Regions from separate parts of the Homo sapiens genome. Here all the other regions are linked to region 3. The links come from fine-mapping of genetic effects on gene expression. A gene starts in region 3. Each other region holds a variant in brackets. All regions are shown on one strand. Distances are between the middles of the regions.

Region 1 (5,000 bases), 32 kb after region 3:
TCTTGCCCTTCCTCTGCCGTAGCCTTCCTCAGTAGAACACACCACCTGGGGGCTGCTGTGTCTTGTTTGCTTTTAAATTTTCAATAACTTGGTACCAGCTGTTCTAGTATTTCTATCTCCCCGCCAGGAAGCTGCCTTCCTCCCACTGCAACGCCACCTGTCAAAAGCAGAGAGCCTGTGCATGCCTTCTTTTCAGACAAAAATAGTTCTCAGATCACCTGTGGCCTTGCCATCTCTGATGGAGATAGTCTCAACCTGTTTCCTCACTTCCCCTCCCAAACCCTTGCTCCAGGTTTCCATCCAGTATCTCTGCCACCTCCAGATCTGGAGCTTCCTCCAGTCCTTGCCCAGCATTAAGCTGGGCACCCGATTCTCTGCAGAGATAGCCCCACCACGGGAAGGAGGCATAGGGGCTTCCCTGACATCAAGAGAAGAGGACGACACACGACCCAAGGGTGGAAGAGACTGTGGTTCCCCAAAGCTTCCCAGTGCACTTGAGGGTTCACACTCTCCCACCACATGGTAGCACCTTGCCTGGGCAGTGGATCCTTCACCTCTGCCCTCACCTCTTCCTTATTGTGATGGTTCCCAAAGGGCTGCGTACAGAGATGGAGGGAATGACACTGCCCAGGTAACCCTTTCATATACACTGACCCCTTTCTTCCTTGCTGAAGACCTCGGCTAGCTCTGTCATCTTCATTTTGTAGATGCAGCACAGCCGGGTCTTAAAAGAGGTCAAACAGCAGACAAGCTCTAGGCCTGTTTACTCGTGTGTTAACCGGGTCATGGAGAGGAGCTGGACAAGCTGCTCTCTGCCATCCCCTCTAGCACCATTTGGTGACTTAACTTGGACAACAGCCATGTATGGGAAATATTAAAAGCAAGTACAGCCACAGCAGCAGCTGCTGGGGCCTCGGGGTAGCCCAGGCCCTGGGAGAGCCAAGAGGGAGGGCCTCAGGCCGGCATCCTACCCTTCAGAGGGAGGCTCCTTTCCTGTTGCTGTTTCTGGTTCCAAGACGCCTTCCCCAGGACCATGAGTTCAAGGAGGGTTCAGGCATAATACAGGCAACTCCCAATCCGCTCTAGAAGAGGGAAAGTTTCCATAGTGCAGAGACACTCCCTGCTACCAAGAAAAGGTGTCCGTGAGCCCATCCTGACAGACGAGATGCGCTGAGGCCTGTCTCCTGCAGCCACTGGCTTCCTGTCCCAGTGATAGGCTTCCACAGCCAGTACAGGACTAGAGCCTGGGGTCCCTGAGCACACACCTGTGTCAGGAGGTGCTGACCCAGAAGGGAGGCAGGGCCAGGGCAAGGGTTCAGCCCAGGAATGGAATGAAACTGCTGAGGGGGCTGCAGAGAGAAGCCTGCCCACCCGCTAGACTCCCTCTGGTGTTCCTGTAATGTTCCTCCCAGCTCCCCCAGCTCTTCCTGATAAGGGAGACTTGGTTTCCTCAGGGAAGAGGGGGGAAGAGTGGGCCTGGGAGGGAGGCTGGCATGACAGTCAGGGGACCCCATTCTCACCAGCTCCAGTTGCCTGTCAGACTCAACATTCATGAAGCATCTACTCTGTGCCAGGTACAGCGCTAGACTTTTTCACAAGCACTGCCTTATCCTCCCAGCAACCTCAGGAAGAGGGCATTGCCACCTACGTTTTATAGGCAAGGAAGCTGAGCTCTAGCAAGATGAAGGGACTTGCTCAAGCTGGCTCACATGAGTTACTAGCAGGGCCAGGACTTGAATCCAGACTCGGGGGTCCCTGTCCCATGCTCTGTGCCTGTGCTGTGTCTCCTCCCTCTGCCCTGCCTAGAGAAGCAGGAGTCCCAGCTGGGCTCTAGGGACAAAATGGCTTGTGTCAGGTCAGGTCCCTCAGGTGCACTTGGCAGGCTGACCCGTCTGTAACCCACCATCTGCTGGCCTCTGGAAGCAGAGTCAGGGTACAGCTTCCAGGGACACATGGGGCAGGAAGCCGAGGCTATGCTTTCTGAGGTGTCGCTGGCAGCAGCAGCCCTGTCCTTCCCAAGTTCTGCTTCAAAGCTGCTCAGGTTTGGTTGGGAAGGGGAAGAGGAAGAGTGACAGCCAGAAGGATGGAGCCATGAGCAGAACAGACTGGAGCAGCACGGATGTAGCAGGGTTCCAGCTGTTCACCTCAGCTCTGCTGTGGACAAAGAGGCTGGGTTGGCTTAAAGCTAACATCCTCAGTTCACTTCCTTAGAGTAACCAGTCAGTTCAAAGTGGGGAAAAAACAGGGCACTCGACAGATGGATCTCAGGGCAGGGAGGAAGAGTCAGACCCACCTGTGCTTGTCTCACCGTGTGGGTCAGTTTCTTCATCTGCAACATGGCTTATGTTGGAATCCATGGCTGTACAAAGTTCTTCCAGTTCCAAAAGCCCATGAACTTGGACTTCTCACAGATTTCAAGTATTTGGACCTGAGACTCCAAGCAGGTCACCCAAAGATTCAGAACTCAGAAGCTCCCCTAATACTCAGCCTTGCCCCCCACACCTTGAGCCTGAGAAAGGAAGGAAGAAGAGGGAAGTCCAGAGGGTGCAGAATTCTTCAGTGGGGAAAGAGGATCTGGAGCAGGTCTCTGGATCCCTTAGAAGCAAGGGGCTGTGGGACTGAGCTGGAAGCCTCCCCCAGGGGTCTGTGACCATGGGGCCCGGCTAAACCCTACTTGGCAGGAATCGCTGACCACTGTGGGGCCCACCCAGTCCAGCTGCTGTCCACTCAAGCAGCGGCAGGTGTCAGGTCACACCCAGGCCTCTCTCTTCCCCTCCCTTCAGAGCTACCATTGTGTCAGGCCAGCCCGGTGCGGTGTGAGCTCCTGCCCTTCCACCCCTTGTCCTATACCCCTCTTCTCCCATGACTTGGAGGCAGCAGACAATCCTGTCCCCTTCCTGGCCCCTTGCCC[A/G]TCACTCCTCAGGGTGGATGGCTCTGCCATCTCTGTCTTCCACTTAGCAGCCTTGCTCCCCTCCTCAACACTATTGCCTGGGCTGGTACAAGAGATGGAGAGCAGCCAAAACAAAGCAGTTGGTCCAGCCTCCAGGTTGGAGCTGCTGTGTGTGGATGGAGGCGTGGGGGAGGAGGGACTCCAGATGAAGCAAAAGGATGGATCTGTGGGGGCAGCGCCCCTCTTCCTGGTAGCTCACTCGTCCATCCTCCACCCAACACTACTGTGCAGCAGAGGGTGGCAGGGTGAAAGAGCATGGAGATGAGGAAGGGCCTCACTTGGAGCTGGGGGCTGAGTGGTCTGAGTGGAGGAAGGTGGTGGTGGTGTAGTTCTGGAAGAGAGGCTGCAGGAACATGCCGATGGTGCCAAAGACACAGACAAAGACAAAGATCCAGAGGAAGAGGCGGTCGATCACCATGGCGACGTACTTCCAGTCCTCACTCACCTGGATGGAGGAGACGGAGGAGGCCCAGGTCACATGATGCAGGATGGGAGACAAACGAGTATAAGCGGGTCCCACCACACAGACACACACCCCACTCCTCTCCTGCAGTGATCCCAGAATGATCTTGTTAAAGCATGGCTCTGATCTTAGTAAAAGCCTCCAGTGGCCCCACTGCCTTCAGGGCCCATCCAAACTCCCCAGTCTGGAATCAAGACCACCCACGACAAATATGAGCCTATCTCCTCCTCCTCCCACCCCATAACATAGCCCTACCAAACCCTAGTGTGTCCTCCCAGATCTCTGTGTCTTTGGGTTTCCTTTGTGTCTGGAAATCCTGAGCTCCCTTTCTCTACCTGGTGCACTCCTACATATCTTTCAAAGCCCAAATCAAACATCACCTTCTCTGAAGGCTGCCTTGATCCCCAGATCAGCATGAACTGCTGTCTGCTCTGGGTTCCCTCTGCACTGTGTACACGTCTCCATCACAGTATATTTACTGTACTGTATTGTTTCAATTTGCATGCCTGTCCCCCTACTAAGCTACAAGTTCCTAAACAAGGACCCTGATTCATCTTTGTCATCTCAACATCTGGAACACAAGAGTGTTAAGTAAATGGCTGATGCTTTAGTGAGTTAAGTGGCTGCCTCAGCCGGCCTGGCTCCTTTTATGATCACACACTGAGCCCCATCCAACCACACTACGTCCCCAGAGGGTGAGACCAGGTCCCAGATGTGAACAAATCGGTCAAAAAGATAATGCTGTCTGTGGGTTTGAGAGCCAGTCACAAGGCTTGCACAAACGGCCAGCATCTCCTCAGAGCTGCTCTACTCCAGCCTGAGTCTGGGCCTTTGTGCACGTGTTTATCTGGAGCCAGGCCAGCTCAGGGGGTGGGGAGACAGCCACTGAGCATCTTTATTTAGTCAGCAGCTGAAGAACTCACTCGCTTGGCAACTGTGCCTGTTATATACCTGGCACCATGCTACACACTGGGGATGCAAATGAGCAACAGAAACGCAGCCAGTGGTTTACAGTCTACTGAGGGAGGTGGAGCAAAAATAAGCACAAATTTAAAAATTCCACACTGGCAAACAAAGGATTGAGATAAAAGGAGGAGATATCATTTAGAATGTGGTCTGGGAATGCCTTTTTGAGGAGGTGAGATTTAAGCTGAGGTCTGATGAGTGAGAGAGAACCAGCTGCATGAGGAAAAAGTTAAAGAAACAATCAGACAAACCCACACGGAGGGACATTCAGCCGGCCTGGTCCCTTTAAAAACGTTTATGCCATGAAAGACAAAGCTGAGGAACTGTTCCAGATTGAAGGAAACTAGAGACATGACAACTAAATGTAATTTGAGACCCTGGATTAGGATGAGGGTGGGGGGTGATGCTACAAAGGACATCACTGGGACAATCGGGAAAATTTAAATGTTGAATTTATATGAGATACAGATATCAATGCTAAATTTCCAGCAGTCGATCACTGAACCTGGGTTATGCAAGAGAGTGTCCCTGTTCTTAGGAGAGACACACTGAATTATTTGGGATAAAGGGTCACAGTGTCTACAATTTACTCTCAAATAGTAGAGTGAAAGTTAATAATTG
Region 2 (5,150 bases), 110 kb before region 3:
GATTGTTTGGTCTTTGATTACATTTATTGGATTCTGTAAAGAGCCTTAACAGACATTAAAAGGAACTGGTACGGGCAAATATTCTTATGTTGTTGACATTCAAGTGTTTGTACTTGATACATCATGGCCCTGAGCTATCAGCTGCACCAAAAAAAGCCATGATTTGTCACATCACGATGGCAGTGATTGAAGGCTGTTATCACAGTAAGGCCTGCCGGGAACCCTGCCACTTGGCCACTCTCTTTCAGCCCCCTCTAATAATGGGTGCAAAAGTCATGCTCAGTATTGAGGAAATTATTCAAGTTATTGAAACACCTAAATGCAAATCCACTTGCATCTATTTTCCTGAAGCAATTTACTGAGGTTTCACTGGATTGAAACTACGTGCCGGAGTGAGGGCAGGGAGATGTTTTGCCTCCAAAGCCTTCTCATAAGCTGTTTACCAAGAGTAGAGACATTAGCAGTCTCTCTGTTTATTCTGGTTTTCTTTTTTAAGCCAAGAATATTCTTTGTATTTGGTGTTATTCCTTTGTCCTCTCCATTTTTCACCAAGTAGATCAGACGCTAGAGGAAAATAAAGCTGAGGAAAGCCAGCTCCTTTGTATGCCAGGAAAATAAACAATTTTTCTGCAATATAATTGTAGAAGATGAGACTGTGGTTGCTAATTTTAATCTTTCAAAAATGATTCCCTAACATCCTCCTCAATTCCACTTCTTGAAAAGTAGGACTGAAAATCAAATCAACAAATATTTATTGCTCACCCATGAATCTAAGGTAGCTTTTTAATCGAATAACATCTCACTTTTCTGAGAACACTTAAATCTGTTGAAATGTCTCTTTAATATCTAATATCTTTTCTCAAGGAAATAAACAACACAGAAGGGATGGTTCTTACAGAGAGAAGGTTTTCAAAGCTGGCAGGACTAGAACTTCTGAAGGTTCTTTTACATAACCTTAATTGAAATGAAACTGGATGTGTGCATCCTTGGCCTGCTCTGGTTTGAGCTGACTTTGACCTGCTCACAAGAGAACCCCACCTCTCTTCCCCTGGGGATGCCTGGCCTGCCTTCTGTCCTCTTGAAATGGTCCATTGTATCAAGCTGGAGTGGCTCATTGGTCAAGAAGATGCTAAGCAGCCGGGTGCGGTGGCTCACGCCTGTAATCCCATCACTTTGGGAGGCCGAGGTGGGTGGATCATGAGGTCAGGAGTTCGAGACTAGCCTGACCAACATGGTGAAACCCTGACTCTACTAAAAATACAAAAATTAGTGGGGCGTGGTGGCACACACCTGTAATCCCAGCTACTCAGGAGGCTGAGGCAGGAGAATCGCTTGAATCTGGGAGGCAGAGTTTACAGTGAGCCGAGATCCCACCACTGCACTCCAGCCTGGGCAACAGAGCAAGACTCTGTCAAAAAAAAGAAAAAAAAAAAAAGAAATACTCACTCTCAGACATGATCCTTAGAAGCTCTTGGCCGGGCGCGGTGGCTCATGCCTGTAATGCCAGCACTCTGGGAGGCCGAGGCAGATGGCTCAGGAGGTCAGGAGATTGAGACCTTCCTGGCTAACACAGTGAAACGCTGTCTCTACTAAAAAAAAATCCAAAAAAATTAGCCGGGCGTAGTGGCACGTGCCTGTAGCCCCAGGTACTCGGGAGACTGAGGCAGGAGAATCGCTTCAACCTGGGAGGCGAAAGTTGCAGTGAGCCGAGATCGTGCCACTGCACTCCAGCCTGGGCAACTGAGCGAGACTCCATCTCAAAAAAAAAAAAAAAAAAAATGCTAAGCTCAGTCTATTCATAACATCTCAGTGAATTCTCAGAGAAAGATCCAACATGAAGGAGTTGACTGTGGCATAATTGCAACCTCTTCGGAGTGGGCAATTAGTAGATTTGACAGATAAAAGCAGTCTCTTACCGGTATATGCAACCTTGATGCTTCAAAGACCTACGCAAAACGAAAAAAGGAATTGTAGCTATTAATCATAGAAAATACTCAAATTGTTCTAGTATTTATTCATCCTGTCTTGCTCTAAAGACTGCAGCCTAGCCTTTGCCATGAGAGCCAGCACTATTTTTATTTATTTGTTTGTAGGGAGGGAAGAGGGTCTGATAGCACTGGGTAAGAACTCAATTTCTGCTTTTCTTGAGTCCCATGCTTATCTTCTTTCCTCGTATGACTTATCAACTCTGGTGGCAACGTCATTTCTGTATTTAATTCAATCAGATCTTCCCACACTGACTTCGCAGTGTCACTGCCATTGTTATTCTGTAATTATAACTTATTGCTAATCTCTGGGCTACTAGATAATATTTAAGTACATGATTCACAGAGGGACTGGAAGAAAGATACTAGAGCCCCATCTTTTCTGCCACTTAGTGTTTTCATGTCCCCATCTTTCTGTTTTATGTAGCTAAACAGATCCATCACAGAGGCCACTCCCTGGGTGCCACACTCTGTACTCTGGGGGCACCAAGATGGGTAAGAGGTGGTCCTCACCTCCATCCCTAACCTCTGGTGGCTGACTGCCCTCAGAGAGCACTTCTTCTTATAAGAGGTAGAGTGGGCCGGGTGCGGTGGCTCACGCCTGTAATCCCAGCACTTTGCGAGGCCGACGTGGGCGGATCACTTGAGGTCAGGAGTTCAAGACTAGCCTGGCGAACATGGTGAAACCCCGTCTCTACTAAAAATACAAAAAATTAGCCGGGCATGGTGGTGGGTGCCTGTAATCCCAGCTTCTCGGGAGGCTGAGGCAGGAGAATTGCTTGAACCCAGGAGGCGGAGGTTACAGTGAGCTGAGATCGTGCCACTGCACTCCAGCCTGGGTGACAGAGTGAGACTCCATCTCAAAAAAAAAAAAAAAAGGAAAGAAAAAGAAAAAAAAGGCAGAGTGGGCTGCTATGGACACACTTGGCTTGGGAGGCACCATGGACCGGAGATATTTTCTTTGCGGTACCTACTCTCCACATCAAGCCACAGTGAGCAGAACCTTCAGACAGCACAGTGTGCTAAGGATCCTATCTCCTTCTTGCTGCAGGGGTTTCTTGCCCCAAGTAGCTCACCCAAGTACACTTCCCCATGAATTCAATGAATAAGACCAAAATTAAACCCACAACTTCCCTAAACTA[T/C]TTCCTTCTCCTAACTTCCCTGGTGTGCTCCTGACATCGTGTTCTTCCAGACGCCAGGCCTAAAGACTTAGCCCCATTTCTGACTCCTCTGGACCCTGGACCCCACGAGGGTCTGAGCACTTTCTGTGTCTGATTTCACCTTGCCGTGGCTGTTCACGCATGCCCGCCTCTCCAGGGCCTCGGCCCCGCCACTCTTGAAGCCGCCATCTTCTGTCTCGCACTATCACAGCAGCCTGCTACCTGCTCTCCTCACTTCGGCGTCCCTTACCCCAGTCATCCTGCACTCTGCTTCCCCATGGATCTCCTTAGACTCTCAGGCTTAGCTCTGAACAAATTACTTCCTGCTCAAAAACCTTTAAGTAGTTTCCCCACCTACTATCTCCTGAATGACACTGAAGAAAACTTTTCTTTAATTACAAGCATATGCCAAAGTTTGATCATAATCTTGCTAGAAGAAAATTTTCTTCAGCAGGCTAATTCAAAGATTACTCTTAGTAGTGGTATTTCGTAGGAAAAACAATGGTAGTCATTGTTATGCCAGATTATAGAAGGTTTAGCTAAAGACTGCTAATGGACAGCTGGTTGGGCTCAACAGTGGATTTCCAGAACAAGTCTTCAAGTCTTTACAATGGATCAGATAATCAATAGGGCAGTTATCAGGAATGCTAATTCTCCCCAGAAGAGGATTATAAATTACATCACGCACAAGGTTCTGTCCCAGACAGATTGGGTGCAGGTTTTCTTTAGCAATAGTCACAGAAACAATGTGCGTTTAAGCTGGAAGGACCCTTAGGGAAGAGCCACTCCAACCCACATGAGAAGACGAAGGCCCAGAAAGGGGCGAGGGTGGGCCCCCGGCCTATGCAAGATCCACTTTGCTCTCAGACCATCAGGCAGGCAGCTTTAGGGCGGTCAGTTCCTTGGAACTCAGCATGGGGTTAGGGTCCCAGACCTGCTGAAAAGAAAAGCCAGCTTAACTCCACCCTAACTGAGTATCACATAAATAGCATTATAGAATTATCCACCACCCATTACCATATTGCTACAGGGAGAACCTCAAGCTCCAACTCTGAACAACGGAAATACACCTCCTCTCTCTCTACCCAATTTCCTGCCAGCCAGAGAGGTGGAGCTCCCAGTTCTAAGTGGTCAGTGAGGGCCTCTGGGTGAGGCAGGCAGAGAAGCCTGTAAAGGGAGTGTGGAATAGAACAGGGGGAGGAAAAAGAGGAGGTGCAAGCAGGGTGATGAAAGAGAGGGCAGCCGGGGAAGCCAGAGCAAGTCTGCAGGGTGGTGATGAGGGGAGAGTGGGCTTGGCAAATGGGAAAGAGGAACCAGCCCCCTTCTCTAGTCCTGTGTGTAATGGACACCTTCAGTCAAGGGCTGGCTTGCAGGTTCTCCGATAGTGATCTGATCATCACTCAGCCTAATTTCAACCTGTGTAACTCCTTGAAGTTACAGTCATGCACTGCATAACAAGTTTCAGTCAATGATGGTGCACATATACCAAGGTGGTCTCAGAAGGCTATAACAGAGCTGAAAAATTCCTCTCCCCTAGTGATTTGTGTTACAGTGGCCTACAGTACAGGAATGTGCCATACAGGCTTGTAGCCTAGGAGCGATAGGCTATACCATACAGCCTAGGTGTGTAGTAGGCTGTCCCATCTAGGTTTGTTTAAGTACACTCTGTGATGTTCACACACTGAAGAAATTGTCCAAGATGTGTGTATTTAAATCACACCCACCGGCCAGGCCTCCCTTTCCCCGTCTCCAACCTCCAAGTAGAATACTTCCCTGGCAAGGGTTCCTGGCAGCATAATGGGCATGCTAGTGATTTCTTCTCTGGGGGGCTCTGCTAATGGGACCCCTGGAATTTCCCAGGGCTCCTGGGGCTGCTGGAGGCTTAGGGTGCCCAAGAAAGGTGCTCCTTTCATCCCCCTTGTACTCCTGCCCCAAGCATTCTTGCCGCAACCGACAGCCCCTCTGTAATAGCAAGTAGCAGGTTACCTGGGCAGAGAGGTGGCCA
Region 3 (5,171 bases):
CTATGTTAGATTAAAAGGGGTGGGGGGAGCAGCGGTGCAGCTTCCCTCGCACAGTAGTTGTGATTAAAGCTTTTCTGGATCATTTCTGAAGAAGGGTAAAGGCTTTCAGATTGTCTTGCCTGAAGACAAGAAAGCAGAGGTAAGATATAACTCCTGTTACTTAAACGGAGGAAAAAAAACATGGGGAAGTGGACTGGAATTGCAACAGCAAGAGTTTGTTGTGGTTCTTGTTTGTTTTTACCTTTTAAATTTGTGAAATACAGCATATATATACAGAAACATGAATAAAACGTAAATGTATAATGAAATTATTGGAAAGCAAACATATGTAGCCACTACCCAAGTCAAGAGCTAGAACATCACCGGTACCCAAAAGATTTCTTCCCAGTCAAAACTCCCACCTTTCTCCCTAGAAGTGATTAACCACAATTTTGTCTTTTTTTTTTTTTTTTTCTTTTTTTTTTTTTTTGAGACGGTGTCTTGCTCTGTCTCCAGGCTGGAGTGCAATGGCACAATCTTGGCTCACTGCAACCTCCGACTCCCTGCTTCAAGCGTTTCTACCACGTCAGCCTCCCCAGTAGCTGGGACTACAGGCACACGCCACCATGCCCAGCTAATTTTTTGTACTTTTAGTAGAGATGGGGTTTCACTATGTTGGCCAGGATGGTCTCGATCCCCTGACCTCGTGATCCGCCCACCTCGGCCTCCCAAAGTGCTGGGATTACAGGCATGAGCCACTGCGCCCGGCCTCATTTTGTCTTTTATGCAGAGCATACTATAGTTTGGTTTTGCCTGGCTTGGGACTTTCTGTAAGTGGGATCATATAGTATACATATGGCTTTTCCCACTCAGTATCATATTTAGATAATTAGCTACCTTGTTGCATGCGTAGATCTTTCATTTTTGTTGCTGTATTGTATTCCATCATGGGCATATGCCACCATTTATCCATTTTACTTTTGATGGACATTTGGGTTGTTTCCAGTTTGGGGGCTATTAATTACAAATAATGCAACCATGAACTTCTTGGGGTTTACCATTACCTTTCTAGATAATGGTAAACTGGTTTCCTGTAGTGACTAAGAGCTGCTCTGCATCCTTGCTGCCACCTGGTCTAATCAGATGGCTAATGCTGTCTGTCTGGTGAATGGACAGTAGCTCACTGTAGCTATACTGTGCATTTCTCTGATGTGATGGGGTTGAGAACCTTTTCATATGTTTGATATTTTTTATCTCCTGTGAAGTTGTCTTTCGATTGTTTTTGCCCATTGTTATACCTACTGAGGGGTCTGTTATTCTTTCAACTAACCAGCCCTCTGAAGGCGAATATAAGGATACAAAACATGCTTCCTGCCCCCGAGGAGATGACTTGACAATTCTAGAGGCAGATATATGAACAAGAAGTACATGATAATTGTGATTACTGAGGCATCCATCTTCCCTAGCAGACTAGCTAAAGGATGGCGCTCTTATTTGTGTCATATCCTGGGTGCTTAACACAGTATCTGCCACATAATTAGGTGCTTAGTAAAGTTTTGTTAAATGATCGAATGGGGCGTTTTTAGCGCAGTGTGCAAGTGCCCTATTAGGGGTAGGCGCCCAGTAACTCGAGAAGCATGGAGTAGGAAACCACAAACAGCACCTGCTCCCCCTCCTCTCCCCCTACCTGCTGTGGGGAAGGCCTCCCTTGTAAATTTGAAAGGTTGATTCACGGGAAGCCGTGGAGGAGGTGCATGCTAGGCCAACGAATAGAATGTGCAAAGGCCCAGAAGGAAGACAGAGCCCAGCCTGCAAGGGAATGTTAATTTGGAGTGACTAACACCATGAAAGGGCATCAGCTGGAGATACTGCTATAAAGGGACTGCCTTGTAATTTCATAAGCATGGGGGTAAAATTAAGATTAAACACAGGGAAAGAACATTCTCACAGGTGAGGATGGTGTTGAACCCTAGAATAATCGTTTCCCAGATACCTTGAACAAAAATCCAGCAGTTAGAGAAGCCTGACCATGAAGCAAATTTGACTTTTGTCCCTCTAGATAACAAAAGTTATCTTTTTGAAAGTAATGGTGTAATTTGAATGAGTGTAGAGAAGCGCTGAAGACTGAGCTTTACTAAAGCCTTCAGACCTGGATTTGGCAGCAGCGTGGCCTTAGTCAAGCCTCGGTTTCTACACCTGCAAAGTGGGAATAATGCCTACCTTGGAGGGCTGTTGTGAAGATTAAGGGAGATAATACATGTAAAGTACTTAACCATTTGCCTGGTGGGGTAGTTTTTATGACCTAGATCCTAAATTGTTCACTGCTGCTGTTGCTACTCTTGGTACTTTTTACTGGCTGGCATCTGCTTGCTTAAGTTTATAACATAGTAGGAGCATTAACAAGGTCCCACGGTGGGGACCTTGGTCGTTTGACGAGATCTGCGCTCCCGCCCATCCCCTCCCCCCCCCCTCCACATTGGAGACGCGGCCACCACCGCGCTGGCGCGGAGAGAGGGAGGACCGGGCGTCATGCTGTTTCTGGCCTGAGGTTTTGTGTGCCTTTGTTTTCCTTTTGCTCTATTCGTGTATTCCTGCCTACGGCCTGTGCGGGGAATTAGGAGCTCAGTACTGAAACGGCGGTTTTCCTAAACAGTACCGGACGGGCGCGGGGGCTGACGCCTGTAATCCCAACACTTTGGGAGGCCGAGGTGGGCGGATCTCTTGAAGCCGGGAGTTCGAGACCACCCTGGCTAACGTGGTGAAACCCTGTTCTTACTAAAAATACAAAAAAAAAAAAAAAAAAAAAGCCAGGAGTGATGGCGCTCGCCTGTAATCCCAGCTACTCCGTAGGCTGAGGCAGGAGAATCGCTTGAACCCGGGGGGCAGAGGTTGCAGTGAGCCGAGATTGCGCCATTGCACTCCAGCCTGGGCAAAAAGAGCGAGACTCCGCCTCAAAAAAAAAAAAAAAAGTACCTTCCGTAGTTCTCATGCAGCGGAGGGGTTCGACTTGTAACCGGCCTGAAACCAAGCGTGGCGCAAGATTTGCTCAAGCCCCTCCTCTTGGCCAAACTTTCCGGAGGGGAAGGCTTTCCGAGGAAACGAAAGCGAAATTGAACCGGAGCCATCTTGGGCCCGGCGCGCAGACCCGCGGAGTTTCCCGTGCCGACGCCCCGGGGCCACTTCCAGTGCGGAGTAGCGGAGGCGTGGGGGCCTCGAGGGGCTGGCGCGGCCCAGCGGTCGGGCCAGGGTCGTGCCGCCGGCGGGTCGGGCCGGGCAATGCCTCGCGGGCGCAATGAATCCGCGGCAGGTAAGCCGGGCCGGCCTTGGACCTTCGCCGCCGTCTGGGTTCGTTTACAACCTCACAGGCTTTGTGTTGCAGTGCGTAGCGTGTGCGTCTTGTGAGTGTTAGAGTGTGTGTGTGTGTGTCGTCTTGCCAAGCAGCATTGCTGGTTTAGGAATTTGTGCGTCTTGTGAGTGTGTGTGTGTGGGTGTGTGTCGTCTTGCCAAGCAGCATTGCTGGTTTAGGAATTTGTGCGTCTTGTGAGAGTGTGTGTGTGTGTGTGTGCGTGTGTGTGTAGTCTTGCCAAGCAGCATTGCTGGTTTAGGAATTTGTGAATTTGTATCCTGCTCATTAATTCTGCAGAATGGAGCAGTGCGTGAAGAGGGCTTGGGGGAAAATGCGCCCCCGTCTGAGTAGGAAGGCCTGAGCCCATGTCAAGGCAGACACATCGTCTCCCTTTCTGCTAGGGCCCCTTGTGGAACCCCCTACCCCCGCTTTAGCCCCACTTGAACAACGTTCGGACTTTGAGCAGCGCACACTATCCTCAGCTCACCTTATCCACCTCCTGAAGGCCTTCTGGGAGTTAAAAATGGCACTTAAGCTGTAGGAGAAAGCTTGTTAACCACTTTATAGCTAAAAACTGGGAAAACACAAATGGCCTTCAGCAGGTTAACAGATAAACTGAAATACATCCACATAATGGGATACTGCTTAGTAGTGAAGAGGAAATACTGTTACAAGTAACAACACGGGTGACTCGCAAGTGCGTTATGCTAAGCACGAGAAGCCAGACTCAAAAGGCTGCATACTGTATGAGTCCATTTATATGACATTCTGGAAAAAAAAAACCACAGTTATAGGGATGGAAAGTGGATCCGTGGGTGCCAGGGACTGGGTATCGTGGAAGAAATTGATTGTTGAGTGGCATGAAAAAGCTTTTTAGGGAAATAGAAATGTTCTATATCTTGATTGTGGTGGCGATTGTCGAAATTCATAGATTTATACACTTAAAAGGATAAATTTTACTGTATCTAAATTATATACCTCAATTTTGTTAAGATATATATATATTTTTTTTTTTTTAAGCACTCCTTTGAAAGGATTAAGGACGCCTAACTTGAAGGAAAAGCATTTCTGCACAGGTGTCAGTGTATTGCACTGTGGAACCTGTGTGGTAAAGGCAAAGGGGGTAGTGCTTATCTCTTGATCCTAAATATGTGAGACCAGATTAAAGTGAAATCTGGGAGGCAATGAATGTTAAATGAGTTGTTATGTAATTTGCATAGAGGTGATGCTGAGAGATTTAGAAAGGATCACTGTGGGTTGCTTGCTCACTTTCTTGCTCTCCTATTCCGTAGCTTTCCAAATGGCTGTACTCAACGGTGGCTTGGTGTTTAGGGGATTTAAGGGGGGCAAAAAGAAAGATTAATAATCTCCTCCTCTCCCTCTAACCCTACTGCCCTAAGATATCCTTAGCAAACTTACATCTCCTTTCTTTTCTCTGTGTTCATTCCATTGTGCGCACACATACACATTCATGGATTTTCTCTTTTTGTTTAGGGAAAAAAATTATAATGTACATACTATTCTACAACTTTTTGTTGTTTTATTGAACATTATATGATTCCTAAATTATCCCCAGGTGAATACAAATAGATATGACACATTTTAAAAAAATAAAATAACTGGCCGGGCGTGGTAGCTCATGCCTGTAATCCCAGCACTTTGGGAGGCCGAGGAGGGCGGATCAGGAGATCGACACCATCCTGGCCAGCATGGTGAAACCCCATCTCTACTAAAAATACAAAAATTAGCTGGGTGTGGTGGCGTGCGCCTGTAATCCCAGCTACTCCGGAGGCTGAGGCAGGAGAATCACTTGAACCCGGGAGGCGGAGATTGCAGTGAGCTGAGA
Region 4 (5,000 bases), 170 kb before region 3:
AATGGAAACTTAATAGATGAGAGTGTGGCCTCTTGGTTTAAATCCTGTCTCCACCACTTAGTTGCTATGAGGTCTGGGGGATGTTCACTTTTCTTATGGGGCTATTGTGAGACTCAAAGAGTTGATGTAAAGAAAAGTGCTTAGGAGGCCAGGTGTGGTGGCTCATGCCTGTAATCCCAGCACTTTGGAAGGCCGAGGATGGCTGATCATATGAGGCTAGGAGTTTGAGACCAGCCTGGCCAACATCGCAAAACCCCACCTCTACTAAAAATACAAAAATTAGCCGGGTGTGGTGGTGCACAGCTACTCGTGGTAGCTGGGTACTAATCCCAGCTACTCGGGAGGCTGAGGCAGGATAATTGCTTGAACCCAGGAGGCAGAGGTTGTAGTGAGCCATAATCGTGCCACTGTACTCTAGCCTGGAAGACAGAGTGAGACTCTTGTCTCAAAAAAAAAAAAAAAAAAAAAAAAAAAGAAAAAGAAAAGTGCTTAGGCCCCAGCCAACAAGTTGGACTCACCAAATGGCTTGTTGCTGTTTGAAGTGCTGCCCCCGCCACTGGGAGATCAGGAAAAGCTCCCCCTGAAGGGGTGACAGTGCAGCTGGCCCTTGGGAAGGAGGTGAAGGGCCTTTTAGTCAGTTGGGGAAAAAACAAACACTCCCTGCCCACCACCACCACCTGGTCCTGACCTCAGTTCTTCAGCTCCCTAGGCTGTTCAAAGATCCAAAAACCTATTTATTTTTAGTTGCTAAAAATATCCCCTAAGCCAGGGTTAAAGAATTTCTCCCTTAGTGGTAAACAGGTGACTTAGAACCAATCAGGGCCCAGCAGCCCCAGTGATGATGCTGTTCCTCCCCTACCCCCAAACATTCAGCAGGATCCTTTCATGTGTCAAAAGGAAAGAAACTTATCAGAAACTTCCTGTTGAGAAAACGATACCTCTTACCCCAGACTTAGCAGATGCACAGAAACCTTTGACTCCTGGATCTGCCAAGGCACACAAAGAACCAGAAACACCTATTGGCCTGGCCTGGGATAGGCAAACACTGGGGCTCAGCCCAACAAGCCTTCCTAGCACAGCCTGGGGGCAGCACACACAGTAGTCAAGAGAGCTGCCTGCCCTGGCTGTAGAGCCTAGGTCTGCCCCTTATTAACTGTATGACCTGTAGTAAATTATTTAGCCTCTCCGAGCCTCAGTTTCCCTGTCTGTAAAATAGAAATAAGAATACCTGTCTCAAAATCCTGTTAAGGACTAAATGAGATGGTGCCTGTAAGGCACACAGCACAGGACCTGGTGCACAGTGAGGCTGCAATACATGGCCCCTGCTGTTACCATTGTTAATGGAGACCGCCGCCCTGCTCCCTCCGCCCCCTGAAACGGGGGCTAGCACTCCCCAACTGTCTGGCCATCCTTCTCCAGCTGCCATTTGGGGATTGGCTCTGTGACAAGCAGGGGGCACAGGGCCTGGGGAATACTGGAGGAAGGCACCCAGCCCCACCTGGGAGTCAGAAGGGACCAGCTTAGGCCTGTGGAAGGGTGGGACGCTGGATCTGGAGGTCTCTGGTGAAGAAGCTGAGAAGAGGGAGTGCTTGTACAGAAGATGGAAGGGCGCAAGCTTAGGGGTTACTGGTAACTTGGTTTAGCTGGGATGAGACACCGGGTGTGGCAGGTGATGGGGATAGAGGGGCCAGCTGGTGCCAGGTGGGAAAAGGCCCTTTTGGCCAAGTGCAGCTAGGAGGGTGGACACTCTGGGTTGCCACGGAAAGGTTCTAGAAGGGGAGGTGACATGATTTGGTTTGTATTTTAGAACATTTGCTCTGGCAGCAATGTAAAGATGGCTGGGGTGGAGCACATGATGAGACCAAGGTGTGGCCACAGCAACCCAAGGATTGGCCGGGGTCACTTGGCCTTACTGCTTCAAATATAATTGGTTACAAACTCCCACCCCACACAGGAGGGGACCCGGTGTCTTTCCACTGGTCTCTGGGGGCTTGGAAACTTCCATTTCTCTCTTGACAGCTCATCTGATGCCAAACTCTTTCTGCTGAATTCTCCACCTCCATCCTGTACTTAGTAACCGCTTTAGGCACCCTTCCTGTTCCTGTTGCTCCTCGAGGGACCCATGACCAAGGCCTCTAGGTTAGCTGAC[A/G]TTTCCATGGATCTGGAGCAAGGGGAAGGGGTGAGGTGGTGGTGGCACAACAGATAAGACAGCGCTGAACGCCACATGCTCCTGATCTTACAGTCTCAGCACTGTCCCTGTCTCATGGGTGGTCAAGTCCTCAGTGGGCTCCGGCCTCCCCCTCTCATGGGACTGGCCCAAGGTGCTGCTTAGCCAGCTCCCCTCTCCTTCCAGTCCCACAGCTCACAATCCCCCATCTCCAGTGTTCCTGTTCATTTCTAGGGCACATATATTAAGCCCTGTGTTGGTCTCCTCTGACCCCACCCCAAGCCTGTCCAGAGGAATCTTCTTCATTAGCAAACATGCTGGGGTGCATAAGTGGGCTCCTAAACTAAGATGGTCTCTTCCTCGCTAGGGACCCCATCACCAGGTCTCCATAGAGGCCTGTTCACTGGCGGGAAGAGGAGGAAGGGAAAGATGATAAATGGATATTGTATCTGTGGAAATGAAAGCCGTGGTCTTAGTTCCACAAACATAGCCCAGTCTAGATTACAGATAACGATGTGGGTTTCCCAGGTGGTGTGGACACCAGGGATAGAACCCAGTTTATTTTAATCATATATTGATTCTCTGGTCAGCAAAGATTCTTCTGAGAATGAGCATTTAAAGGGTGGGCTTGAGTTTTCTTTCTTTTCTTTTTTCTTTTTTTTTTTTTGAGATGGAGTCTCGTTCTGTCACCCAGGCTGGAGTACAGTGGTGCGATCTCGACTCACTGCAAGCTCTGCCTCCCGGGTTCAGGCCATTCTCCTGCCTCAGCCTCCCGAGTAGCTGGGACTACAGGCGCCCACCACCACGCCCGGCTAGTTTTTTTGTATTTTTAGTAGAGATGGGGTTTCACCGTGTTAGCCAGGATGTTCTCAATCTCCTGACCTCATGATCCGCCCGCCTCGGCCTGCCAAAGCGCTGGGATTACAGGCGTGAGCCTCCGCGCCCAGCCGAGTTTTCTTTAGAAGACAAAGTAAAGCCCAAACTGGCCAGCCCCCAAATAGAGTGCCTGCTTAGCAGGCTGGCAGGTGAAAGGGCGTGGGACTTGGAAGACACAGAATGCTGCAAGCCCCAGGCAATTGATTGAACCTGTCTTGGTTTGGGTTTCTTCATCTGCTAAATGGATGTATGACTCCCTTACAGGGACATTATGAGATGGCAATGAAATGGTATGTGCAGAATCACCTGGCTCGGCCCACAGTCTGGCTTTTGGGTAATTTTGACACAAAAGGGAATAGCTATGAACTGAATTGTGTCTCCCCAAAACGCATTTGTTGAGGCCCTAACCTCCAATGTAACTGCCTTGGAGAAAGGGTCTGTGGGAGGTAATTAAGTTTAAATAAGGTCATAAGGATGAGGTCTAGTCCTATAGGACTGCAGCTCTAGGAGAAGAGAAAAAGAGAGATCCCTCTCCCTTTCTCTGCCATGTGAGGACACAGTGAGATGGCAGCCACCTGCAAGCCGGGAAGAGAGCCTGACCGTGTTGGCACCCTGATCTCAGACTTCCAGCCTCCAGAACTGTGAAAAAATACATTTCTGTTTTTTGAGTTACCCAGTCTATGATATTTTGTTTCGGAGGCCCGAGCTGTGGTGCATATTTAACCTGTGGGCAGTGTGTTTTCAGAAAGTGGTGACATGGTGCACATGGCCCTGGTGGGAGTGGGTCTGTGGTCTCCTGTCCTTTGAGGAAGCTCCTTCTGTGACATCCAAGGTCCCAATGATCTGGGTCCTGCTACCTTCTTGGTCTCACCTGGTATCATCCCTCACTTCTTTCTCACATTGGTCTTCTTTCTTTTATCTCTCCAACTCTCTAAGCTCCATCCTGCCTTGGGGTTTTTGCACATGCTGTCCCCTCTGTAATGCATACCTTTGCAAGGCTCACTTTGGATTCAGAGGTCCCTTCCATAGAGAGCCCTCCCTGTCCTGGCTGTCTGGGACTTCTCTCATTTCCTTTGCCCTGTCTTATTCTCTTCCTGGCAGGCATCACTCTCTAAAATTAAATGGTTTACCTGTTTAATATCTGTTTTCCTCCCCTGAAATGTAAGCTCTGTGGGGACAGGGGCCTTGTCTACTTGTCTTGCTATATCCCTAGAGCTTACCAAGGACTGTCACATAATGGGGGCTCAACTCATGCTCAATGAATGAATGAGTGAATAAGCTGATCGGGGCAAAGCTCCCTGCCTGTGCATCGAGCACCTCTTGAACCAGACCCCAAACACTTGATTTCCAGCATCACACCTTGTCTCTCCTTACAACTAGAGACCAGCTGGTCCATCCAAAGGATTTCCAGTCAAAGGGTTCTATGGAGAGCATGGGGTCCACTACAGAGACCTAGGCTGGAGGAGGAGGTGAGTGAGTTGATCTTTGAATGTTCTTCTCTACCCTTTCAACTACAACAGCTCTGAATTTGTCTGTTTCCCATGTTGGGCGTACATGAAAAATCTTATGAAAGAAATGGCCCCACAGCCCAGAGAAAATGGAAAACCACAAATTGCATCCAAGTCTTCACATTACACTGAGGAATCTGAGGTCCAGAGACTTGCCACACACAGATGGCCAGAGGTGGGATGCTCTATCCCTAGTGGTGACGTGCTCAGGGATCAAGAAATTCCTGCTACGTGAGTAAAAAATAGTGGCTCGCTCAAATGCCGAAACTTGGCTTTCTTTCTCTGAGAACTGAGGACAGGGGAAAGGATTTATGATCACCACTGGTCTCTGTTAGTCCCAAACAAACTTCAGACTCCATAACCCCCATGAGTGGTCATTACACACTGCAAGAGACCAAAAGTGAGCTCTGGCGAAGCGCTCAGGAGAAGCCTATCCTGGCCGGACCAAA
Region 5 (5,171 bases), 26 kb after region 3:
TTCCTTTTGGATGCCAAGGGCTTTTCTTCTCTTAGTCTGGAATTAATCTGAATCGAGGTGGAGTTAGTATGTCTAGAGGGTGCTCAGTCTTAGCCAAACAGAACCCTAAATACAGGGGAAAGATCATGACCCCACACTTCCTCTCTCCTATGAGTCTTGAGTCCCTGCTTCAGAATCTTATTCCTGAAAGGTTTCCATCTTTCTCCCGTTGCTTCTGGGATTCCTAGGTTGGCAGAGTCAGCATATATGATTCCAAAAGGCAATCCGGGAAGACTAAGGAGACAAGCGTCAACTGGTGTCTGGCTGATGGCTATGACCTGGAGATCCTGGACGGTACCAGAGGCACTGTGGATGGGTAAGGAGACAGGAGAGCGCAGTGAGGACCAAGCCTCTGCCCTGACTTGCAAGGGTGCATCATACCTCTGCAGTCTCAGGGCTTGAGAGCCGCCTCCCCTCCCACGGTGTCTCCACTGTGAGCTCCTTATCTTACAGGTCCCAGGTGAATAATGAGTGCTTTTGTTTCTCTAGGCCACGGAATGAATTGTCCCGGGTCTCCAAAAAGAACATTTTTCTTCTATTTAAGAAGCTCTGCTCCTTCCGTTACCGCAGGGATCTACTGAGACTCTCCTATGGTGAGGCCAAGAAAGCTGCCCGTGACTACGAGACGGCCAAGAACTACTTCAAAAAAGGCCTGAAGGATATGGGCTATGGGAACTGGATTAGCAAACCCCAGGAGGAAAAGAACTTTTATCTCTGCCCAGTATAGTATGCTCCAGTGACAGATGGATTAGGGTGTGTCATACTAGGGTGTGAGAGAGGTAGGTCGTAGCATTCCTCATCACATGGTCAGGGGATTTTTTTTTCTCCTTTTTTTTTCTTTTTAAGCCATAATTGGTGATACTGAAAACTTTGGGTTCCCATTTATCCTGCTTTCTTTGGGATTGCTAGGCAAGGTCTGGCCAGGCCCCCCTTTTTTCCCCCAAGTGAAGAGGCAGAAACCTAAGAAGTTATCTTTTCTTTCTACCCAAAGCATACATAGTCACTGAGCACCTGCGGTCCATTTCCTCTTAAAAGTTTTGTTTTGATTTGTTTCCATTTCCTTTCCCTTTGTGTTTGCTACACTGACCTCTTGCGGTCTTGATTAGGTTTCAGTCAACTCTGGATCATGTCAGGGACTGATAATTTCATTTGTGGATTACGCAGACCCCTCTACTTCCCCTCTTTCCCTTCTGAGATTCTTTCCTTGTGATCTGAATGTCTCCTTTTCCCCCTCAGAGGGCAAAGAGGTGAACATAAAGGATTTGGTGAAACATTTGTAAGGGTAGGAGTTGAAAACTGCAGTTCCCAGTGCCACGGAAGTGTGATTGGAGCCTGCAGATAATGCCCAGCCATCCTCCCATCCTGCACTTTAGCCAGCTGCAGGGCGGGCAAGGCAAGGAAAGCTGCTTCCCTGGAAGTGTATCACTTTCTCCGGCAGCTGGGAAGTCTAGAACCAGCCAGACTGGGTTAAGGGAGCTGCTCAAGCAATAGCAGAGGTTTCACCCGGCAGGATGACACAGACCACTTCCCAGGGAGCACGGGCATGCCTTGGAATATTGCCAAGCTTCCAGCTGCCTCTTCTCCTAAAGCATTCCTAGGAATATTTTCCCCGCCAATGCTGGGCGTACACCCTAGCCAACGGGACAAATCCTAGAGGGTATAAAATCATCTCTGCTCAGATAATCATGACTTAGCAAGAATAAGGGCAAAAAATCCTGTTGGCTTAACGTCACTGTTCCACCCGGTGTAATATCTCTCATGACAGTGACACCAAGGGAAGTTGACTAAGTCACATGTAAATTAGGAGTGTTTTAAAGAATGCCATAGATGTTGATTCTTAACTGCTACAGATAACCTGTAATTGAGCAGATTTAAAATTCAGGCATACTTTTCCATTTATCCAAGTGCTTTCATTTTTCCAGATGGCTTCAGAAGTAGGCTCGTGGGCAGGGCGCAGACCTGATCTTTATAGGGTTGACATAGAAAGCAGTAGTTGTGGGTGAAAGGGCAGGTTGTCTTCAAACTCTGTGAGGTAGAATCCTTTGTCTATACCTCCATGAACATTGACTCGTGTGTTCAGAGCCTTTGGCCTCTCTGTGGAGTCTGGCTCTCTGGCTCCTGTGCATTCTTTGAATAGTCACTCGTAAAAACTGTCAGTGCTTGAAACTGTTTCCTTTACTCATGTTGAAGGGACTTTGTTGGCTTTTAGAGTGTTGGTCATGACTCCAAGAGCAGAGCAGGGAAGAGCCCAAGCATAGACTTGGTGCCGTGGTGA[T/A]GGCTGCAGTCCAGTTTTGTGATGCTGCTTTTACGTGTCCCTCGATAACAGTCAGCTAGACACACTCAGGAGGACTACTGAGGCTCTGCGACCTTCAGGAGCTGAGCCTGCCTCTCTCCTTTAGATGACAGACCTTCATCTGGGAACGTGCTGAGCCAGCACCCTCAGATGATTTCCCTCCAAACTGCTGACTAGGTCATCCTCTGTCTGGTAGAGACATTCACATCTTTGCTTTTATTCTATGCTCTCTGTACTTTTGACCAAAAATTGACCAAAGTAAGAAAATGCAAGTTCTAAAAATAGACTAAGGATGCCTTTGCAGAACACCAAAGCATCCCAAGGAACTGGTAGGGAAGTGGCGCCTGTCTCCTGGAGTGGAAGAGGCCTGCTCCCTGGCTCTGGGTCTGCTGGGGGCACAGTAAATCAGTCTTGGCACCCACATCCAGGGCAGAGAGGTCTGTGGTTCTCAGCATCAGAAGGCAGCGCAGCCCCTCTCCTCTTCAGGCTACAGGGTTGTCACCTGCTGAGTCCTCAGGTTGTTTGGCCTCTCTGGTCCATCTTGGGCATTAGGTTCTCCAGCAGAGCTCTGGCCAGCTGCCTCTTCTTTAACTGGGAACACAGGCTCTCACAAGATCAGAACCCCCACTCACCCCCAAGATCTTATCTAGCAAGCCTGTAGTATTCAGTTTCTGTTGTAGGAAGAGAGCGAGGCATCCCTGAATTCCACGCATCTGCTGGAAACGAGCCGTGTCAGATCGCACATCCCTGCGCCCCCATGCCCCTCTGAGTCACACAGGACAGAGGAGGCAGAGCTTCTGCCCACTGTTATCTTCACTTTCTTTGTCCAGTCTTTTGTTTTTAATAAGCAGTGACCCTCCCTACTCTTCTTTTTAATGATTTTTGTAGTTGATTTGTCTGAACTGTGGCTACTGTGCATTCCTTGAATAATCACTTGTAAAAATTGTCAGTGCTTGAAGCTGTTTCCTTTACTCACATTGAAGGGACTTCGTTGGTTTTTTGGAGTCTTGGTTGTGACTCCAAGAGCAGAGTGAGGAAGACCCCCAAGCATAGACTCGGGTACTGTGATGATGGCTGCAGTCCAGTTTTATGATTCTGCTTTTATGTGTCCCTTGATAACAGTGACTTAACAATATACATTCCTCATAAATAAAAAAAAAACAAGAATCTGAATTCTTAGAAAGTTTTAAGTCCTGGTTTCTTGGGGGAGGTGAAAATGGGAACAAAGGGACCTGTGGCCCTGGGGTTTCTGATAACAGCACCAGTGGCATCTGACATGAACCTGTGGGGGACAGGGCTGTCCCTCAGCCTTTGGAAAGGAGCCATTTCAAAGAACCTCCCTTTGTGGGTAAATTTGCGTCTGGGTGGGGTGGGGTTCATCAGGCACCTTTTGATTACGTACCCAGCAGGGCCCTTCCCCAGCAGAGCCCACGATTGATTGATTGATTGATTGATTGATTGATTGATTTAGAGATGGAGTATCACTCTGTCTCTCAAGCTGGAGTGCAGTGGCGCGATCTCGGCTCACTGCAAGCTCCGCCTCCCGGGTTCACGCCATTCTCCTGCCTCAGCCTCCCGAGTAGCTGGGACTACAGGCGCCTGTCACCACGCCTGGCTAATTTTTTTGTATTTTTAGTAGAGATGGGGTTTCACCGTGTTAGCCAGGATGGTCTCAATCTCCTGACCTCGTGAGGTCCACCTCAGCCTCCCAAAGTGCTGGGATTACAGGCGTGAGCCACTGCTCCCAGCCAGAGCCCACTATTAAATATCTTGTCCCACGGGACTTGAGACGCAAGATTTCAAGGCCCAGAGTAGGAAAACATCCCTTGAGAGAGGATCACCTATTAGGTACATAATTCCAGCTCTCCTTCAGGGGTGTTTTCTACCTCCTCCAAACCCCACTACTACCAGCTGTTTGACTTCCAGGAATGTGCATATTTGGAGTAAAGTTGCAGCCAGGACCAGGACAGGCTTGGTTGTAGTTTTAGGAGACAGACCATTTTCTTTTTACATCATAGATGACATCCAAATTATCTCTCCATCTTGAATTTCAGAGAGAATGTACCTTTTTTCACATTGTAATTTACATCAGAATTTCTAGAAGACTCATCCTGGACCCTTTAATAATATCATAACCAGAGGATCTAAAGTACCTAACAGTGAGGCTAAGTTCCAATTAAACCTGCCTCATCCATTACACAGAAGGAACAACTGAGGCTAGAAGGGCCAGTGACATGTTGTTTGTGGGCATATTTCTTGAGGACCAGAACACCACAACGCCACAGGTGTCATTCATTGCCTACTGAGCTACATTGCTGGGTAAGCTGAAGTTGGTTTTTTGTTTTGTTTTGTTTGAGACGAAGTTTCGCTTTTGTTGCCCAAGGTGGAGGGCAATGGCACGATCTTGGCTCACTGCAACCTCTGCCTCCCGGGTTCAAGCGATTCTGCCTCAGCCTCCCGAGTAGCTGGGATTACAGGCATGCACCGCCACCATGGCCAGCTAATGTTTTGTATACCATGTTGGCCAGCCCAGTCTCAAACTCCTGACCTCAGGTGATCCACCTGCCTCAGCCTCCCAAAGTGGTGGGATTACAGGCGTGAGCCACTGCACCTGGCCAACACTTTTAAGTGGAAAGACAGTGAAGGCTGTTGTCTCTGCCTGCTGTGATGTACCAGGAACCTTGAGTGCCTCTGTCCTCTCTGTTCTCAGACAGCTCCGGTTCCACATGGACAGAAATGTAGTGCCAGGTCTTTTGAAAAGTGGACAGTTTCCTCAGCCTGAGGCAAGTGCCCAGCCACTTTGTGTCCAGAGGGAACAACACTGTCCTCCCACGACGCT

Which allele goes with the higher level. Alleles are on the strand shown, and positions count from the first base shown. SD is a standard deviation of normalised expression in the study named. Not every link is listed here.
For the expression in pancreas of the gene that starts at base 3,092 in region 3, A is the low allele of the variant in region 4 and G is the other (large effect, 1.2 SD a copy in GTEx).

What was found. PIP is the estimated chance that this variant, and not a neighbour inherited with it, causes the effect.
Region 1: its variant is fine-mapped to the expression of ADAR in whole blood (TOPMed, PIP above 0.99).
Region 2: its variant is fine-mapped to the expression of ADAR in whole blood (TOPMed, PIP 0.98).
Region 4: its variant is fine-mapped to the expression of ADAR in pancreas (GTEx, PIP above 0.99).
Region 5: its variant is fine-mapped to the expression of ADAR in whole blood (TOPMed, PIP above 0.99).

Annotation. Positions count from the first base shown.
Region 1 is chr1:154,574,157-154,579,156 of GRCh38, reverse strand. It overlaps CHRNB2 (cholinergic receptor nicotinic beta 2 subunit), which reads right to left. Exons shown (of 6, transcript NM_000748.3): 6 at 1-3,395. The coding sequence ends at 3,225. Among named protein-coding and RNA genes, the nearest start is that of CHRNB2, 8.9 kb to the right of the region's middle. RefSeq lists a silencer at 4,090-4,384. The variant A/G (reference allele first, on the strand shown) is at 2,912.
Region 2 is chr1:154,719,015-154,724,164 of GRCh38, reverse strand. All of the region lies in intron 5 of KCNN3 (potassium calcium-activated channel subfamily N member 3), which reads left to right. Among named protein-coding and RNA genes, the nearest start is that of ADAR, 110 kb to the right of the region's middle. The variant T/C (reference allele first, on the strand shown) is at 3,128.
Region 3 is chr1:154,606,107-154,611,277 of GRCh38, reverse strand. ADAR (adenosine deaminase RNA specific) reads left to right here and starts at 3,092. Exons shown (of 15, transcript NM_001111.5): 1 at 3,092-3,286. The coding sequence starts at 3,272. RefSeq lists enhancers at 993-1,072, 1,156-2,149, 2,819-3,208 and a silencer at 3,209-3,318.
Region 4 is chr1:154,781,047-154,786,046 of GRCh38, reverse strand. The region is part of intron 2 of KCNN3 (potassium calcium-activated channel subfamily N member 3); the gene reads left to right. Among named protein-coding and RNA genes, the nearest start is that of KCNN3, 87 kb to the left of the region's middle. The variant A/G (reference allele first, on the strand shown) is at 2,150.
Region 5 is chr1:154,580,401-154,585,571 of GRCh38, reverse strand. ADAR (adenosine deaminase RNA specific) reads left to right here. Exons shown (of 15, transcript NM_001111.5): 14 at 228-355; 15 at 529-3,515. The coding sequence ends at 766. Among named protein-coding and RNA genes, the nearest start is that of CHRNB2, 15 kb to the right of the region's middle. The variant T/A (reference allele first, on the strand shown) is at 2,315.